5 linked regions of the Homo sapiens genome follow. The protein of the gene in region 3 purifies or fractionates together with the protein of the main gene of each other region. This does not show direct contact. Each region holds a gene or a part of one and is shown on either strand. Other genes may lie near its edges.

What was found.
Region 1: the proteins of PTPRE (region 3) and ILKAP purify together in Homo sapiens (affinity purification with mass spectrometry, with the first as the bait; one large-scale study listed by BioGRID). This does not show direct contact.
Region 2: the proteins of PTPRE (region 3) and IPO9 purify together in Homo sapiens (affinity purification with mass spectrometry, with the first as the bait; one large-scale study listed by BioGRID). This does not show direct contact.
Region 4: the proteins of PTPRE (region 3) and TMC1 purify together in Homo sapiens (affinity purification with mass spectrometry; one large-scale study listed by BioGRID and IntAct). This does not show direct contact.
Region 5: the proteins of PTPRE (region 3) and XPOT purify together in Homo sapiens (affinity purification with mass spectrometry; one large-scale study listed by BioGRID and IntAct). This does not show direct contact.

The regions. Positions count from the first base shown.
Region 1 is NC_000002.12:238,169,675-238,173,081, reverse strand, and holds the end of ILKAP (integrin-linked kinase-associated serine/threonine phosphatase 2C), read left to right. Parts: intron 1-2,057; coding exon 2,058-2,139; intron 2,140-2,405; coding exon 2,406-2,546; 3' UTR 2,547-2,680; downstream 2,681-3,407. UniProt on the Homo sapiens protein: Protein phosphatase that may play a role in regulation of cell cycle progression via dephosphorylation of its substrates whose appropriate phosphorylation states might be crucial for cell proliferation.
Region 2 is NC_000001.11:201,866,552-201,870,664, reverse strand, and holds part of IPO9 (importin-9), read right to left. Parts: intron 3,933-4,113; coding exon 3,706-3,932; intron 2,018-3,705; coding exon 1,869-2,017; intron 1,076-1,868; coding exon 947-1,075; intron 83-946; coding exon 1-82. UniProt on the Homo sapiens protein: Nuclear transport receptor that mediates nuclear import of proteins, such as histones, proteasome and actin. Serves as receptor for nuclear localization signals (NLS) in cargo substrates.
Region 3 is NC_000010.11:128,067,183-128,071,295, reverse strand, and holds part of PTPRE (receptor-type tyrosine-protein phosphatase epsilon isoform 1 precursor), read right to left. Parts: intron 3,174-4,113; coding exon 3,010-3,173; intron 2,657-3,009; coding exon of another isoform or gene 2,434-2,656; exon of another isoform or gene 1,611-2,433; intron 1,605-1,610; coding exon 1,469-1,604; intron 996-1,468; coding exon 846-995; intron 489-845; coding exon 395-488; intron 1-394. UniProt on the Homo sapiens protein: Isoform 1 plays a critical role in signaling transduction pathways and phosphoprotein network topology in red blood cells. May play a role in osteoclast formation and function.
Region 4 is NC_000009.12:72,786,610-72,790,722, forward strand, and holds part of TMC1 (transmembrane channel-like protein 1), read left to right. Parts: intron 1-1,729; coding exon 1,730-1,874; intron 1,875-2,513; coding exon 2,514-2,708; intron 2,709-4,113. UniProt on the Homo sapiens protein: Pore-forming subunit of the mechanotransducer (MET) non-selective cation channel complex located at the tips of stereocilia of cochlear hair cells and that mediates sensory transduction in the auditory system.
Region 5 is NC_000012.12:64,414,260-64,418,372, reverse strand, and holds part of XPOT (exportin-T), read right to left. Parts: intron 3,467-4,113; coding exon 3,384-3,466; intron 1,676-3,383; coding exon 1,619-1,675; intron 328-1,618; coding exon 258-327; intron 1-257. UniProt on the Homo sapiens protein: Mediates the nuclear export of aminoacylated tRNAs. In the nucleus binds to tRNA and to the GTPase Ran in its active GTP-bound form. Docking of this trimeric complex to the nuclear pore complex (NPC) is mediated through binding to nucleoporins.

The sequences.
Region 1 (3,407 bases), on a different chromosome or scaffold from region 3:
ACTTTAGTTGATCATTGGTGGAGAATCATAGGTTTTTACACAGAGCCAGGATCGGTTGAGAAAGAGACAGTTCACCTGTTCATCTCCTGTTCTCCATGCCTAAGGGTACGGCACCGTGCTGGCTGAGGGCAGGGCCTCAACAGGTGATGGTTAAAGATGGCATTATGGGGCTAGGGAGGCCTGTGAGCAGCGGTGCAGCAGCCCTGGCCTGATGATGAAGGGCTGAACTAAGGCAGTAGCAGGAGGGGTCAAGGAAAGCTCCCGGAAGCAGGATTCACAGCACTGAGTTGATGAGGGGAGGCCAGAGACACTAGTGGCACTGTGGCGAGTGGGCCTCCGAGTGCTGCTCTGAGTCCCGCCCCAGTGCTGCGGATGAAGAGCGCGTGCCTTGCTTTGGCACTCGCCTGCTTGGCCTTGTCTTGAGCCACTGCCCCATTCTCCACATCTTCTTCAGTGTGTTTGTCATGTTCTCACGTACCGCGGGGTCCTCCATCATCTCTCCAGCAGCCGCCGCCTCTGGTGTTCTGAAGGATGCACCTTCTGCTTTGCTTCCTAGCTCGCCTTCCTGGGTTGTAGTCATGGGTCTGTGTGATTGGTTATTGAGGGTCTGAGTCTCAGGACACTGGAAGGGGTGGGAGCCTGCCAGGACTAGGCCCCACGGTGTTCTCAGCATGGACGATAGGCTCGGCAAGTAGCGGCCGAGTGAAAGCCTAGTTAAACGAGGAAAACAGGCTGGGTGTGGTGGCTCACGCCTGTAATCCCAACACTTTGGGAGGCGGAGGCAGGTGGATCACCTGTGGTCAGGAGTTTGAGGCCAGCCTGGCCAACATGGCAAAACCTCATCTCTACCAAAAATACAAAAATTAGCCAGGCGTGGTGGTGGGCGCCTGTAATCCCAGCTACTCAGGAGGCTGAGGCAGGAGAATCACTTGAACCTGGGAGGCGGAGGTTACAGTGAGCGAGATCATGCCATTGCTCTCCAGCCTGGGCAACAAGAGGGAAAGTCCGCCTCAACAACAACAGCAGCAGCAGCAACAAAAAACAAAGAAAAAAAAACACAAAAAAACCCCACAGATATTACAGTGAGAAAAGGAGGGTGGCTTATACCGCAAAGCTGTGGGGATGCGTATTCCCCACCCCCAATGCCAGGAAAACTAGAACTGTCACATTGAATCCATTGGTGTTCAGAAAGATTCCAGGGACGGTCTAGGGGGGTTTGATTCTGAAAGGGAGAGCATGTGGTTTTCAAACACAGGAACACGCACAGCTGCCCCTTCTTGGGCCTCGGTCTTGGATGCAGCCCCAAGCTGTGCAGTGTGTGCCCAAGGATGTTTCACCGAGGCTGGGCTCATTCTCAGCTTTATGTCTGGAAGTGGTGTAAGGCCTATGGTGTTATAAATTCTTGTATATTTACCATAACACCCATGTTTTTATTCAGTGATTTTTCTGGAGTTTGCCTAAGAAAGTACAGCACCTAATGTTTGAGGTAATTAATAATTCTGTTAATTGGCGAAGAGAAGGATAGTCTCAGTTTTGATGTATAACATCCTATCCACAAATACTTGTAAGTAGTTTAAACCTTTGTCTCAGAAATTAAGTGGGTTTAAACAAATCTTAGCCTGGCCAGGCGCTGTGGCTCATGCCTGTAATCCCAGCACTTTGGGAGGCTGAGGCAGGTGAATCACCTGAGGTTAGGAGTTTGAGACCAGCCTGGCCAACGTGGTGAAACCCTGTCTCTACTAAAAATACAAAAAATTACCCGGGCGTGGTGCCGGGCACCTGTAATCCCAGCTACTCAGGAGGCTGAGGCAGGAGAACAGCTTAAACTGGGAAGGTGGAGGTTGCAGTGAGCCAAGATTGCGTCATTGCACTCCAGCCTGGGCAACAAGAGTGAAACTCCATCTCAAAAAAAAAAAAAAAAGAAAAAAGAAAAAAAAAACCTTAGCCTTTGAATAGTTGGACAAATATTTATTTTATCTCCATCTCCAGGCCCTTTTTTTATTTTTTATTTTTTGGTTGGGCCTAAAACCCGTTTATATTTCTCCCTGGTGTTGTAGGTTCATTTTGTTGGCCTGTGATGGGCTCTTCAAGGTCTTTACCCCAGAAGAAGCCGTGAACTTCATCTTGTCCTGTCTCGAGGTGAGAAATCTCACACGGGGGTGGTGGTTGTCCCAATTGTGTCTTAGTTTTCAGAGAAGTAGAAGTTCTGAGACCCCATTTCCTCCCATTGTGGGACAGCCCTTGTGCCCTTTTTCAGTGTGAACTCTGCCTACTGACTCACTGGTCAGTTTGTCCTGCCAGCCCTGATGGAGACCAGAGCAGCTCTTCTTCCTGGCAGTCATGTCTCAGGAAAGTGACAGGGTGCGGGGTCACTCCATTCACTCATTCCCTTTCTCATCTGGTAGGATGAAAAGATCCAGACCCGGGAAGGGAAGTCCGCAGCCGACGCCCGCTACGAAGCAGCCTGCAACAGGCTGGCCAACAAGGCGGTGCAGCGGGGCTCGGCCGACAACGTCACTGTGATGGTGGTGCGGATAGGGCACTGAGGGGTGGCGCGCGGCCAGGAGCACGCATGGTATTGACTTAAAAGGTTCATTTTGTGTGTGTGCACATTGTGTGTTTTGTGTACTCCTGTGGGACTCCCATGGTTGTAAATAAAGGTTTCTCTTTTTTTTTCCTAGTCTTTTGAGTTATTATACTGTGAGCACCTCTTGACCCTTCAGAGATTGTGTTTGCTTTTGAATATGCTGTCTTTCCTTGTTAAAACCATTATAGGCATCTTGGACTGGCTCGTAGTGGCCTGCAGGCTGCTGGTTGTGTGATGTTTTGTAGTTCACGGGCATTTTGCTGTGCTTTCACTGTCATGATGACCCTGGTTGGGGAAGTGGCATGTTGCAATGAAGAGACCCAGGGGATGACTGGTTAGTCAAGGCTAGGCCCAGACCAGGGCTTTGGGAACCCTCTAGCTCTTTTCAGTTTTCCCTATGGAAATAGTGTTGCAAAATGTTACATAGCATGAGCTCAGGCTTAGCCAGGAAATAGACTCATAGACAAGGTTACTCATGCATCAGACCTGCCAGAAACAGTACAGAATTAGCCATTCTCATTCCATTGGTGAGAGCTGCAGTCTGGTGGAAGGAGTCTGTGGAGGACTCGGTTCAGTGGCTTCCATCTGGACTCCCTGGGTGTAGGTGTGCACCTTCCTGTTGGAGCAGGCAGCCGGCTGCTCAGCATGGCCCGGAAATTCTGCTTCCCACGTGAGGTAGGTGTGGGGAGTTGGCCCTGTGCTGGAATGAGGTTAATCTTTGCAATAACACCTCAAAGGGGGACACTTCTGTTAAAGATGTTAAAAGCATGAAAAGAGTGCATGAAGAATAATAAGCTCAGAAGAATAAGCTTTAAAATAC
Region 2 (4,113 bases), on a different chromosome or scaffold from region 3:
CATTGTGGCCCTGCTCATCATGCCACTGGGCTACTTGTTCCAGGGTCACTGACACATAGGCCCGCAAGCACTCTCCGCCATTCTGGGGAGACAGGGGTGGCAAGCAAGATTAGTAATCGAGGGACAGATGCCAGAAGGCCCTCAGTCTGTATAAACAAATGTTCCCAGAGGCCTATGCCTCATAAAAGCGGTGAGTCTATAATGTTTGTGGTGGGCTCATACCACTGGAGTTAAGACATTTACTGTTACAGACATAGACGTGCATTACATAATTCCCCCTTTACCTAATCAGCTATCTCACAAATGTGTATATATATTTTTTTAATCACAAGGGACAATGGCCAAGCAAAATGAATTTTAATCATAAAGGTCTACCTCTGGTACTAAAAAAATATGCTTACAATCTTGGAATAACTGGGGATACTGTAGGTCTTTATATAGGTCTTACACAAACCACTAGTTGCCTAGGGATTTCCAAGCTGATCAATATTCACTGGCAAGTTCCTATAACCTTTCTAATCAATCACAGTAGCAGACACCTGAAAAGGTAACCAATTCACCCAAGAAACAAAAAGAGAAAAAATATTCAGGCATGTCTCCCCTCTCTAGAGGCCCATCACTCTGCTGACTTTATTACTAGAAGAAATATGCAGAAAGACTTTCTTATGGCCCCAAGTCTAGATGTCTGTAACCTCTTTCACAGTAGCAATACCCAATACAGATGGGCAGGGTGCTTGGTATCCATATTTTTAAAAACTGTAACATGCTCCAAAGCACCAGAAATGCTTGGCTTTTGCAGACTGAACCCTTCCTGAATCTGCTAAGTAAATATGGAGTTGAGAATTCCGTATTTCAAAAGCATAAAACCATGTCAGATTTCTCAGCATAGTATAAGCCCATGGCTGGGGAGCTATCTTCCCTCTTCTACTCTCCATGTCTCAGATACCTGCATGGTGGCATTGTCATCTGTGTGAAGGGTACACTGTGCCACAGCAGGGAAAGCTTGGCAGATGAGAAGCTGGGAAAGGGGAGGCTTTGTATTTCGTACTACTGTTGTCAGGATATCAATGGCTGTCTGAAAGAGAGAAGAAAAAGAAAAGTCAGAATTGCCTCTGGGGTGGGGGTTGCCCAACAACCAAGATCCTTACTGGATGGGTATTACATAGCAACCCAGAGAAAGCTTATTAATGAAAGGCAAGTTTCCAAAATAAAAGGAATAATTAAATGGGTAGTACTCTCAGCCTTCTCATAATAGCTTACTAATTGATTAGCCATAGGGGTGGGCAGTAGTACATGGTAGTGGATTGGATAACCAGGTGACATACTTAGTGGCACTGTGTAAAGGTGGCACTCTGTTCAATTCACTGAGGGTACCTCTGGAACAAGAAGAGCCATTTTCTTTCTTTCTTTCTTTTTGAGGCAGTCTCGCTCTGTCACCCAGGCTGGAGTGCAGTGGCACGATCTCCACTCACTGCAACCTCTGCCTCCTGGGTTCAAGTGATTCTCCTGCCTCAGCCTCTTGAGTAGCTGGTACTGCAGATGCCTGCCACCATGCCCGGCTAATTTTTGTATTTTTAGTAGAGATAGGGTTTCACCACATTGGCCAGGCTGGTCTCGAACTCCTGACCTTGTGATCCACCCACCTCGGCCTCCCAAAGTGCTGCAATTATAGGCATGAGCCACCGCGCCAAGCCAAGCCATTTTCTTAAAGCTTCAGAGAATCACCCACTGTCCTTGCAGGCAAAAGAGCTCAGCAAAATCACCCCATGAATCTCTAACGCTATTAGGTTCTTGTCAGCTAGATGCATCTGTGGGTGGCACTTGTAGATCTCTCTCACACACACACACACACACACACGGCCACTTACCGCACAAAGCCCTGCAGGAATCTTGTCTGCTGGGGCCTGCATTATGCTGACCAGAGTGGGAATCAGCCTCATTTGCATTGGGCCCTGACAGGCTTCAATCTGGGACAGCTCCTTGAAGATGTCCTGAGCCAGTGAGGCGACGACGGGATCTGAAGTGGATAAGGCAACACGGAATCCCCCTGCCTGATGGTCTGCATCTGCTTCTCGCTTAATGATGCCTGTTGTTTGGCCCTAACCTAAGTTAACAACTTCTGCATTGATTACTTATCACATACCCGGGACCTAGTGGGGCCACATGAATAACCTGAAAGAACAGGAGAGATCCTAAATCTGCAAGAGGTACACTTTGTATGGCTTCATTAAAGTAGGGACTAGTCATTAACAGCTACTCATAAAACAAAATGTGGCTTTTTCTAGAGAAAAATCTTTAAAGTCTTTATTCTTGTGAAACCTACGTTATAAAACCAAATGCTTAAAAAAAAAAAAAAAGCCCAACTGATACTTTAAGAAGACATGAAAGCTGCAAAAATTGCCAAAACACTGGCTTTGATGCATGAGAGAAATCATACATATCTCCTATGGGGTAGCCACGGTAGACATGAAGAACTCTCAAAGCTACTTCTGGGGCAAAAGGCAAAACTCCTAAAAAGCAGAGCCTTATGAAGAAAGGGAACTTTAGCTCAATCTTCTTTATCTATAGAACAAAACATCCTCCTCTATTTAGTATGGAAAAATATAGGCAATGTGCATTAAAGTATACCTTAAAAGATCACTGCAGCATTGTTTGTAATAGAAAAAAATTGGGAATACCCTAGATGTCCATTAACAGAATGGGTAAATTATGATATACCCATTTTATGGAACATTAGTAATGGCTGAAAAGAATGAGATATATCCAAGAACACAATGTGGAAAGCTCCTCAGTACACATTTTTCAGTGAAAAAGCTATCAAATAACATGTTCAGTATATCACATTATATAAATAATCCTTATCCTGTACATCTTTCTGAGCTTCAATATTGGAGCTCTCTCTTTAAAAAAAGAATCCTTAATATTTTACTAGTAATAAGGTATTAATAAATACATTCACTACAGGAAAAAAAAAACTTAAAATGCAGAAAAGTAATAATGAAAACACCTGTAATTCCACTACCTAAACACTCAACATTTTGATGTATTTTTTTTTAAAACATACCTATCTATACATACATGCTTTTCTAAAAGAAAAATCAAAACTTGGGATCATATTCTATGGATTTTTTGGGAAAAGTATCTTTTCATTTATTATAATGTAAGCTCTTTCCCATGGTTTCAGATATTCCTTTTAAGCTTGATTTTTAATGGCTGCACAGTATTTCATTTTATGGATATAATTAACTAATGTCTTTTTATAATTTCCAAATTTTTACTACTGTAAAAAATATCTAGTGAATACCTTTGTTTATAAACTTTTCCATATATCTTTCTTTAGTATCTCCTTTTCTAAATTATAGTCCTAGCCCTTTTCTTTTAGGAGGCTTTTCATTTGCCCAATTTCCTATTCTATCATCAAAGTTCTGAATTATGTCTCTTGCTTATTAGCCCTTTATTTATTATCTTTATCCCTAAGTCCTTACTAGAGAGTAAGTGTTACAGAAATAGGTACTCTATTTTTTAATGCTGCTACATTTACAGCACAATTCTATTTTTTGCTAATTGAAAGCCAGATTCTTTGCTTACGATGTTAAAACCATAGCTTCATAGCTAAGACCAGACCTAGGGAATCTTTCATTTAAATTCACCAGCCACCACCTTTTCTTTGGTGCCCCTCATAATACATCCTCCCTGGCAGCATACCATTACTGTACTTTAGGAAAATGGCGATGGTGAAGGGGCAGATTTTGCTTTCCATGCTTGCTGTGAATTCGGGGTCTACTGTACAAACGATGCACAGGGTCTCCATCACCAGGTTGAGGACCTCTGAGCTGAACTGGGCTGCTAGGTGAATTAAGCCATCAAGGATGCTGGGGAGGAAGGGCTGGAGCACGTGGGTACTCTCTGAGACTTTCAGTTGGTCACAATAACTAGAGAGAGATAGATAAGCAAGAATTATTAAAAAAAATTCAATTCCTGGTTTTCCCAATCAATCTCACATATTATAGCATTTGTATGTGTAGCTTTATAAAGCTAATTCTAAAGTTAGGTTTAAGTTTCTACTTCTTTCTGGATGTATTATATAAACATCAACACCACCATTTCTATGTT
Region 3 (4,113 bases):
GCCCCTCTGTGTAAGGGGGAGGCGGGCCTCTGCCCAGGCTTGGGGAGACAAGGAATGAGACAAGGAATCCCAAGTCGTGCCTGCCGCAAATCTCCAGCTTCTGTGAAGCCCTCCCCTGAAATCAGCCTCGGCTGCCCTCCCGCATCTGCAAGCTCATATCCGAAGCAGCTTGCCTGAGACCCATGCAGGACTGTCTGGGTCAGCTGGTGCTTCACAGGTGTCTTTTCTACCTGACATTTGGTACAGCACACAGGAGCCCTTAGCCTGAGGCCAGAGGACACCCTGCTTTTGACCCTGGTGCACAGGGGTAAGCGGTCAATGGCTTCTCCAGGATGAAAGCCTCCGGCACCAGCCCCGCCCCAGCCCTGCCCAAGCCACGCCACGGGTGCCTTACACGGGATGATCTGGATGACCCTGGCCTTCTTCATGTTTGCCGGCAAGTTGCCCGTCCTCATGTTCTCCTTCATGATCCGGACATTTGTCAATTTCTGCAGCAGAGAAGGATATAATGACACAGTTAAACCTCTGACACTCCTGAGCACATTGCTCAGCCGAGGACTAGTGCTGCTGGCAAGGACGCCTGCTCAAAGGAAACCACTCTCCAACCCAGGAAGCCTCCTTAGCATTGGGAAATACAAATGTGTGCCTAGTAGGGCTGCTATGAGGCTCTGAAAGCCACCTGATCCTTCTTCCCTTGTAAATCATGGCTCAGGTATTGCCCCTGCTTTTTCTGAGGTCAGTTAAGGGGCAAGTGATTGAAAGAGGCTTCCTTTAAATGGTCACCTGTTTTCCTCGTGCCCTTGGCTGCTTACACCAGGATGGAGAGGAGGGTCAGCTGTACTCACCCTGAACTCCTCCTCCAGCCCGATCTTGTCGAAGTGGGTGGTGGTGCCGTGCATGGTCTGCAGGTGCTTCTCCAGGGAGGACACGTCCAGCTCTGTGTCCCCGTAGAGGTAGTACTCGAGTAAGGCTTGGTAGATGAACGTGTACTGCATCTGCAGAGAGGCCAGGGGTGCCCACACCCTCAACTCTGCCCTGCAGTCTTGGCCCACGTGGAGCTTGGCAGACCAAAGAGGGCGGCTTTCTTCTTTTTCTCTTTTTGCCAACACAAGGAGGTGTGAGGCAAGAGTCAGAGTACCGGCCACGGATAACGACCATTTATGCCCTTGAGTAAGGAGAACGGTAGCAGCAGAGCCTCACATTGGTGAGCACGCCACGCACTGTGTACATGCACCGTTTGGGGGAGTAGGATTGCCCCATCTCACATGAGGATACGAGGGAAAGATGAGGACGAGGGAGTCCCTGAGGTCCCACGCGTGGGCAGGGAAGGCTATGGGGAGCGAAGCCAGGCCAGGCCCAGGCTGGTTGCCACGTGCCCATCAGAGCCAGGGCCCTGCACACCTGTGTGGCGAAGGCATCGGGTTTGCTTTGGGAAGCTAGATCAGGGCAAGAGGAAGGCATGACTCACATCCGTTTGAACCATCTGAGGGCGCTGATTACGGATTCGAGACACAAATTCAAACACATCCACCTTCTGCTCCGCGTGCATCATGGCCATCATGGCATCGATCACAATGAAGGTGCCCGTCCGGCCCACGCCCGCGCTTTGGGGAAAGAGAAAGATGCTGCGTCGTGAGTCACACTCCTCCCGAAGTAAATGAAAGGCCCCGAAGGGGCCTGCGCACCCAGGTCACTGGATGCAACTTTTTGTTTTTTTGGTTAATTAGGAGCAAAGCTACAGTGCAGCCACCAGAGGGAGCTGTGGTCTCAGTAAAGTGATCTCAGGCCGGTCCTCTGATAGCCACCGACACTCTACTAAGAGGCACATTAACAGCTGGTGCAGTAAGCCTCGGATTAGGCTGTGTGGAGAATTTTTCTCACTTACCAAACAGTGTCTTCTTCTTATATGTGTGATTGGCATCCTAGATCTGTCCCCCTGGGAGCAGAGGGACCTCAGATCAACTATGCAACAGCTCTGGTATCCAGCCTCCCTCTCTGTCAAACTGGGCAAACCAAGTCATCTGACTCGGGGCATTAAGTGAGGTGGCATCTGTCAGATTACTGTTATCTGACCCTGCAAATTCTTCCCAGTATGAGCTACACTGGAGGGTGGGTGGGGTGGGGTCCAGCCTCTGCTTGGCCCCAGCAAGCGAGTGTTGCTCAGACTTGGGGAAAGCCCGTTCTTCGGGGGTTCCTGGACGGCTTCTCGTGAACACCTGCATGACAGGTGCAGAGCGCCTGCATCACTGCGTGCAGGTGGCTTTTGTCCCTGGCAGTGCTGTGATACTCAGAATGAACCTGTCTGTAACAGATGGAAACTTAGTATCTAATCAAAGTGATACCCTGGTGAGGCCAATCACTGCCAGGAACAAGTGGGGCTCTCTGTGGACAGGGGGTTGTGGGGTGGCCTTGGCTGTACATTTGAGTAATTCTTCATGTTGTGCAAAGCCCACCCAGATGCCAGTCACAGGCTCCGCCGAGGCTGTCCTTCCCATCACAGGTGAGGAAACCGAGGCTGAAGTGGCAGCTGGCGAGGGGCAGCCTGGTCCTCGGACCCTGGTCTCCAGGACAGCGTGTTCTGGAAGACTCTGCTGTGGGGGCCCATCTGAGCATGGTGTGCTCTTCCATAACGACTTGTGTGTTGTTGGGGGGCTTCCTGTAGAAACCAGGGGGCTTTCTCTCATTTCCATCTTGGTTCCCAGAGGTGACTTGGGATTCCCGGGGAGAGGTGAGGGCGGCCAAGCAGACCTGCCCAGAACTCCATTCCCACCATCAACCGGAGCCTCCTGGCTTTGGTGGGTTTTATCGACTGGGATGAAGAGGGGGCTCTCTGAACATTCTCCTGTAGGGTTCTTGGGGCCTGGCTCAGTCACTGACATTTGTGTTCACATCAGCCCTGCCCAAACCTCTGCCCACCCTGATATTGGTCCCCTGGCATTGCCCATGAGGATGAGTCATCCCACTGTGGCCTGCCCTTGAGGGTCCCGCCCCGTGGCCCCCACAGCGTACCTACAGTGGACCACGATGGGCCCAGCGTGCACGGGGTTGAGCGTCTTTACTTTCTTGAGGAACTTCAGCATCCCAATGGGGGTAAAAGGCACTCCGAAGTCGGGCCAGCTGGTGAAGTGCAGCTGTGAGACCAGCCTGGGGGCTTTGCAGCCGTCGGGGAGCTGCTGCGGGGGACGCGGGGAGACAAGAGTGGGTGAAACAATCCTCCCCCTGCTCCCCCAGCATCTCATTCTGAGGACGCCGCCGTGGGCTCCCCTGTGCTGGGGCTGCGTAGGGGAGGGGCCCATCCACAGAGGGCCTGCCTGAGCCAGACAGCCTGGACCTTACCCCTGCCGACTCTGAACATGTGCTGCTTTTGGGGCCACAGAACAGGGCCCGCAGCAACCGTCTATGCCCAGGTCAGGCAGGGCCCAAGCAGCCAGACACATCCCCAAAGTTGGTCTGTGTGCTCACAGACCCCCGTGCAAGCAGGGCGGCCATGGCCCATCTTGCCTGGACAGTCCCACCTCAGGCCGGTGGTGCTGAGTAATCACCAACAGCACATCCTTCCTTGGGCAAAGCTGTCTTACATTTGGGAGGACAGATGATGCAGTCGGCCTGCTCTTTGGAGTCTCCCAGACCTGCCCTCAGAGCCTCTCTCAGCTTTTGGACCCAGAGCCCATGAGTTTAATTCCCTTGCCCAGATCACGGAAGGTGATACACAGCGTATTTGGAAGTAGATGTGTGTGCATGTGTGTGCACATGTATGCATGTGTATGTGTGCATGTGTGCGCATGTATGTGTGGGTGAATGTGTGTATGTGCGCACGTGTGAATGTGTGCACATGTATGCATGTGTGTGCATGTGTGAATGTGGGTGCGTACACGTGTGCACCCATGTGCGTGTATGTGTGTGTGCACATGTGTGAATGTGTGCATGTGTGCACGTGTGCGTGTGTGAATGTGTGTGGATGTATGTGTGTGCACATGTGTGAATGTGCATGTGTGCATCTGTGCGTGTGTGGGTGCGTGTGTGTGCACATGTATGCATGTGCATGAATGTGTGTGCGTGTGTGCATGTGTGTGCATGTGAATGTGTGTGGGTGTATGTGTGTGCACATGTGTG
Region 4 (4,113 bases), on a different chromosome or scaffold from region 3:
GCAGTTTTCATAAATTTGTATACATTTTGCTCTATAGACAAAGAGTAGAGCTTATAGCTATCATGGCCATATCTCAATAAAAATGTGTTGCAAGCAGGTTTGCCTTGGGCATCTTTCCTTATTCCTTTCAGTATTCCACTTCTTTTCACACCCTTTCCCACATGTTAGATGTTCCCAGTCTGCTCATTCAGTTCGGGCTCCCTTCCCTGGGAGGCTGTCTTCAGCTCAAAACTTTGCCAGTGATAAAACTCCATTCAAAACTTATCTGCCAAGTGGCCATTTTTACTTGAAGCCCTGCCCTTGGTCAATGACAGTGCAAAAACTGGATAGTGGCATATTAATCAAATAAGTCATTTTCTCCCTAGGTTAAACCATAGGGAATATCTGCTTTCAACCCTTTTGGCCTCCAAAAAAAAAAAAAAAAGCATTTTGTATGGCTTTTCATACCTCATGGTGTCCTAGCTTGAGCACTGGAGCAAAGTCAGAAAATCTGAGCCCTTGACTTATCTCTGTGGTTCACTGCTGGATAATGTCCAGAAAATTATTTCATGCCTTTGAGCTTCAGCTTCCTTATCTGTAAAAAGGAGAGTAACTACCTTGACTTCTTGCTGAGATTTTAAAGAGAACAAATGTGAAAGCACACACAATCACCATTTGCAAAGGGTAAAGTGGTAGATGGATGAAAGGAATAATGATCTGTAATTTTTCCTTACATGCTAGCCTATTTAAAATGTATGAGCCTCCATGATAAGTGTGGCTAATAGTGGGGGAATGTAGATGATCTAGAGATACCGGTCAACCTACAATGTCAGCTTTATGTCATTGTGCCCCTTTCTTCTTTGGGGTTTATATGACTATAATATTTTAAAAACCAAAACCTTATGGGACCATTTTATAATTTGTGTCATATGAAATTTTAATTTTGCTATTTATAGTGAAAGGGAAAAAAGGAAGTGGAGTATATAGGATATAGATCTCTAACCACTAAAATAAACCTGTGAGTAAATGCATTTTAAGCTCTTCATGCAAATACATATATATATATATATACACACATATATATACACACACACACATATAATTACTGATTAAAAATATATATAAAATCACATATATATACATATAAAACCACTTGGCATTCAGGTTGTATAAAAATGTTGATTTTTATTCAAGAATTGTAGAGTAGATGGAAATTTAATGTACTCAATGTAATCTCTATTTGGGATGAGATTCTAGGGGGAATTAAAATTTACATAGGAGTTTCTTTGCCTGGTTTAGTCCATCCAGAGGCTTCAGATGGTCTGGGAACCAACTAAAGTTGTGTGGAGCAATGTAAAAGTCAGTATATATGTTTCTTTTCCCCTGGGGAGGGATTCAATAGATTTCATCGTATTCTTAAAGAAATTCTTGTCCTACCAAAGGTTAAGAACTAATTATCTCAGTTAAACAAAACACATAAAAATATGTTTTTATATACATGTTGAATTATTCAAATCTTCAGTGCTTAGTAGTTTATTAATCTTGAAGGCCTAGAAAGTGAATAATTTCAACAACTGAACAAAAATAAAATTTAAAAAGAAACTATTTTCTGGTCATTAGAACAAACTTGTTATAAAATATATGTCTTTTTGCTATTGCTTCTCCACTTCAACACTCATGATCATGTTTTGTTGCTATTTCCCCTATCTCATTTTTTCTGGCTGCTGGGTTAAACTTCCTGTTTTTGCAGAATGACCAAAAACATTGGTGATGATGGAGGTGGAGATGACAACACTTTCAATTTCAGCTGGAAGGTCTTTACCAGCTGGGACTACCTGATCGGCAATCCTGAAACAGCAGACAACAAATTTAATTCTATCACAATGAACTTTAAGGTAGAGGCACCAACTTCAAAAACCTGCTGTTTGTATTTCTAAGAGTAAAATTGGAGGCATTCCATCTGGTCCAGTAGTGCAGTATCTTGACAATTTACATGAAAGATTAACTCATGGTTTCTGCCTACCAAGATCTTGCCATGGTTCTGATTATAACTGGAAAATCTTCCATGACCCACAACAGCACTATTATTCCTTAAACACTTCTCTTCTCTAAATCTGGTAATAAAATAATGTTACTGGATTGAAATAGGACCATGAGTAATCAGAATAAGATATTTTAAAAACTAGAACAATGTTCACTAATTATTTACAGGAATAAGCATAATATTGAAGTGACCCTAAAACATTATTTTGTAGTTTTTTTTTTAATTCACTGGAATGAAGATTTTTAGAGTGAAGACTATCCTAATATCAGAGCAATCACAGTTTGTTTGCAAGAATTCTTCCTTCTGTCTTACTTGCCATCGTTTGTTGGCAATATTCACCTGGTTTGTGGAATCTCAGATTTAGTTTACATTGTCATTCCTCACATTCTGATGATTGTAAAAATAACTTTTGAGGTTTTGATACTTTTAAAATGTAGCTAAGATATTCTATTTTGGGTTTTTGTTTGTTTGTTTGTTTTCATGGATACAGGAAGCTATCACAGAAGAAAAAGCAGCCCAAGTAGAAGAAAACGTCCACTTGATCAGATTCCTGAGGTTTCTGGCTAACTTCTTCGTGTTTCTAACACTTGGAGGGAGTGGATACCTCATCTTTTGGGCTGTGAAGCGATCCCAGGAATTTGCACAGCAAGATCCTGACACCCTTGGGTGGTGGGAAAAAAATGAAGTTCGTCTCTGCATGCTTTTTATGTGCTTAGAACCTGACATTTGTTTCTTTTGTGGGTTATGTTTCTTTGATGGAACATTTAAAAAGGCCACCCTTTACCTATCCCCTATCCTGCCCTTACAGTTAACCAACCCTGTTGCTCATTTTCCATTCTATTCTAGTCTTATTTCTAAATCTGGACTGTCTGTTTTTCATTTTGTGACATGATGGAAAGTTAGAGTCAGAAAAGATATTAAAAAACACATAGTCTAATCATTATGTTTTACAGATGGGAATGATAAATCTCAAGAGATTGCATTATATGTTTATGGTCACAGAGTTAGGAGAAGAGTCAGGGTGAGAACCTAGGAATCTTGACTTCGAGTCCAAGGCTCTTGCTGCTTTCTCTGCAAATCCTTCATCTGTCATTAAAAGATCAAATTGTTGCCTGAACTTTTTGAAGCAGCCATGATAAAGCCACTGATTCCTATGTTGATCTCACTGGAAACACTCAGATTGCTTCTCCACCTTTGGGCATGTCTGGGCTTCCCTCTGTTTTCATTAGAAGCCTAACTGCAGCATCTCCATCTCCATTTCCTCCTGTCCTGTACCTTACTTTCTCTCCCTCTAAATGCTATTCAAATGAAGAAGGCCAGCTCTTTTCCAGGAATTAAACATTATGACCGTAATTTGCCTTTAGAGTATCTGCCCATTTAGTGAATCAGAGAAAGGAGGTTAGACATAGATCATTTAGAATCAGAAAATCATTGGTCATGAGTTGTTGCTAGAGTCTGTTCCCGTTCATAAAATGCTTATGTGTATGATGTGACGTCATTTTGAGCTTGGGCATTTTCAAAGTATGTGCAGATTTAGGCTGTGGGAAGTGTAGACTTCCCACACTGAAACTTTTGCAGAACAGTATAGATCAAAAGAATTAAAATATGTCTTTATAAGCATAGAATTTTCTAAAAAATCTTGGACAGCAAATGATATAATCTACTTACAGAAAAAGGTTCCAAATAACATTCTGAGTATTTCAGAAGTGGTACCAATAGAGACGGGACTAGATATTTTAAAGACTTTAATATACAGTCATGTCATAAAAACTTGTAAAATATAAGTAATTTAGCAGAGGGCTTTTATTTATTTAAAATGAAAAATGTAGGAACACCTCAAAGCATTTACTAAGTTTGCTTTCAAAATGGTCTCATAATTGTAATAGTACATAGAGGTAACATTATCATGCAGCTTTGGTCCATTATTTATATTGGTTATGTTTTTGTATAAATAAACCATATTAAAGGATGGGTAGTTGATTATCAATAAAATAACTATTCTTTGTAAGAACCTCTTTAACATATATTTTAGGGACCCTCTGAGTCCTAGGGGCCAATGAAGGTAATAATGGAGATTCATGAGTAACTTT
Region 5 (4,113 bases), on a different chromosome or scaffold from region 3:
TTAAAAACAACTACATTTTAAAACCAAAGTTTCCACAATGTGTCATGGAAACTATGACCATTTCAGTCATTGATATAATATTAAATTATTGCTAAACTACCACTTCCATGATCTTTAAAACCAGCACCTTTTAAAAAAGCTATGAAATCAAATGGAGGAACACTGATGAAAATCTTTGAGGTAAAGTTCCAAACTCTTGCAAAAAATAAGTTTAAATATCTAATAATTTGAGGTACTGAATGAAATTATGATTTTACCTGAGCTTGCAGCCATGATATGAGCGTCTCCCTAATTAGCTGTTGTTGAACAGTGGTTAGTTCTGAGTATCTGTTCAAAATAGAGAAGAAAAAGAATAATGGCTATATTTGGTGTCTATGGTTGTAAAAAATAACAGCCTCATATATTTGAAAGGGAAAATTTGTATAGCTCTCAATTATCTGAAGTTCCCTAACATAAACTGATAATGCCACTCATCATTGCTTTAAAGATAAGGACAAGAGTGGCAGGTAGGGCATCAATATCAATCTTTAATTTGTGATTCTGTTCATGTTGAAACAAATGATGGCTACACAATTTTTCGAATGAAAATGTTTTGTGGTCTGTGATCTACAGAATAAACCAATAGGTGAACTAGGAATCCTCTCAGTAGTGATTTGTTATTTTGCTTAATTAGTAAGTCAGAGATTCTGAACACAAGTGCCCATGCAGCTACTTAACTCTAAGAGAGAATTGTCATGTAGAAAAACAGGCCTGGTGTTACCAGATATTCTGACTTTTCCAGAAAAGCTGGAAATCTAGATTTTTCTGTGAAATATCTGGATTTTCATTTTTTTTTTTTTTTTTGAGACAAGGTCTTGCTGTATTGCCCAGGCTGAAGTGCAGTGGCACCATCATGGCTCACTGGAGCCTCAACCTCCTGGCCTCAGCTTCCCCAGTAGCTGGGAATACAGAAGCGCGCAATCATGCCTGGCTAATTTTTTAAAAAAATTTTTGTAGAGATGAGGTCTCACTATGTTGCCTAGGCTGGTCTCAAACTCCTGAGCTCAAACGATCCTCTTGCCTTGGACTCCCAAAGTGCTGAGATCATAGGCATGAGCCACTGCGCCCAGCCTTGGATTTTTATGTGTAACCAACAAACTCAGCACTTTTTTTATTTTTGAGACGGAGTCTCGCTGTCACCCAGTCTGGAGTGCAGTGGTGTGATCCCGGCTCACTGCAACCTCCGCCTCCCAGGTTCAAGCAATTCTCGTGCCTCAGTCTCCTGAGTAGCTGGGATTACAGGTGCATGCCACCACATCTGACTAGTTTCTGTATTTTTTGTAGAGACGGGGTTTCACCATGTTGGCCAGGCTGGTTAGTCTCAAACTCCTGACTTCAAGTGATCTACCGGCCTCAGCCTCCCAAAGTGCTCGGATTACAGGCGAGAGCCACCTCACCTGGCCAACTCAGCACTTTTAAAACACTTTGGGGTACATCAAAACGTATCTATAACCTGGATATAACATATACACTGTGAATTTACAACCTGTATTATGGTTTCCTTATGGAAGAAAAACATTAAATTAAAAAAATGACCTCTCCCCGCAAATCTGAGTCAAAACAGTAAGAAAAGCCTTACTTGTATTTAACTTGATGTTCCAGTACTTGAAAGCAGAAAAACTTCACATGATCATCACTGAAAAAGAAAAAAAGAAAATGAGATAAGCAGAATATGAACTGAGGAAAACAAATCAAAGGCAAAATAGTAATGAGTAATACAGCAGAAAAGTTTCTCAAACTAGACCTTTGGCTTGTTTCATACTTACTGGTCTCATTTTATGACATTAAAATCCATTTACTTAAAAAGCTATGAGAACTCTAAATATTACACAATATTTAAAATTTCCATTAAATCTGACAAGCAAACTAACCAAGATATTAAGATGCACCTTGAATACAATGCTTTGTAAGCAGCAAACCATCCCTCTAAATTCCAGATATTAAGATTCCTGGAACAGTCCCTTCATTTTACAATAACAGGTTAGGTGTAAAATTACAAATGGCAGAACAGACAGAGTCTGAGTGAAAGTAAAGATGGTCGTCCAAGTCCTGCTTAAAATTCAACCCCAGTAGTTCTATTGTAGCCAAATCCAAAACAAGCAGGGCCACATGGACTGTCAGTCCAACTTCAAAGTTTCGTACAGGACACTAAATTACAAATATGGTACCCTTGCTTATACAAGATGGGGGCAAAAGTCAACACACCAATTACCCACTTCCAACTGTCTTTCTAGGGGAGTGGCAGAGTTGCAGTTAGCCAGCTATAAACACTGACAAAGATCTTCTAGAGACCAACAATCTGCCAATGAAGTGAGTATAAGAGAGTTCCTATTTCCGTAAAAAGTTAGTTGAATGCTTTAGAAAGATTTCATAGAAAGCCACACTGCAGAAGGAAAAAATCTTGTACATATTTGACATGGCCTATATAACCAGAAGACTTGAGAGGCGGGGACAAATATCTTAAAAATCTATGGATCGTCACTCATTGTACAGAGACCCATGCTAGAAATTGTAGAGGATGGGTTACAGGTGTGACCAACCTACGAATAAAGTGAATGCTAGTTAGTATACAAAGATAAAGACTGTGGTCCAATATTAAAAGATTGGTCACCGAATGATTATATACCTTAAGTTAAAATTAAAAATTAAGATATAGGCCGGGTACGGTGGCTCACGCCTGTAATCCCAGCACTTTGGAAGGCCGAGACGGGCGGATCACAAGGTCAGGAGATCGAGACCATCCTGGCCAACACAGTGAAACCCTGTCTCCACCAAAAAGAAATACAAAAAAATTAGCCGGGCATGGTGATGGGCACCTGTAGTCCCAGCTACTCAGGAGGCTGAGGCAGGAGAATGGCAAGAACCCAGGAGGCGAAGCTTGCAGTGAGCCTAGATTGCGCCACTGCACTTCAGCCTGGGCGACAAAGCGAGACTCCATCTCAAGAAAATAATAATAATAATAATAAAATAAATAAATAATTTTAAAATTAAGATATATATCATTTACAATCACCGTCTTTACCAAAGTTTTAGGAAAGCAGTTATCACCCTCAATCATAAGATAAGGAAGTTTTTACTGCACTTTATTCCAGCTGGGATCTGGTGACAGGTACACAATATATACCAAAGGATGGTTTTACTGAAAAGTTAATTCTGAAATGGCCAAACTGGGTTTACTACTTTTCTCATTTCTACATGGAATGACTATATGTTAATGGCTTTGCAAAAAAAAAAAAAAGTCATAAAATGTTTTTATGAAAACACTTTCCAAATACAGGTAAATTTCACAGTCCTGTCATGTCCACAGAAATTTAAATTGTCATGCAAATTTTGTTTTTAATTACCTGTATGTCCTCTGGGCTAGAGCTTCTGCACACACCTGCCAGGCATCTGGGGAAATTTTTAACTGCTCAAAATAGGCCAGGGCCTATAAGATTGCAAAACAAAAAAATGCATTTAGAATAAACAATCTCAATGCCCTGCTAATATAAACAAAATATTCTGAGAGTTGCAAACCTATAACAAATCAGTAAACTTAATAGAAAAACAGTTAAAACATTAAATGCAGGCTTCCGAATATATGCAACTTGGGGTCATTCCTAAAAATAGGTTAAATAAATATAAATTCCATCAGTTAGATAATCAAACCTGTTTTCTTACAGCAGCAACAACACAAAAATGCCCCGCAGCCTTCATGGGGTTATTATGAAGAATGAGAGCAAGTGCTTTGTCAAGTGCCATACTACTGAGAAATTGCAGAGGATGAGTTAAGGGTGTGATCATTTTATAATATGCAATTATAAAATGGCACGTGAAGGGCACTTTTCCTATTTAATAGCACATCTGCTATTAAAGCGGTGATTATAAAAGATAAAACATACTGTGTACCTTATCTGATCTACTGTTACACAGGAGAGTATTTCAAGTCTTTAATTATATCATGTAAGTTCCCTAAAGAGATTAAAATTGGAGTACAAGTGCATGATATGAATTTTGAAAAATATTAAGTAACTGAAAAGGTCAAAGCTCGAGGAAGTTTTTTATCTCTAAGTTTATGAATTCAGGGCCTTGTAA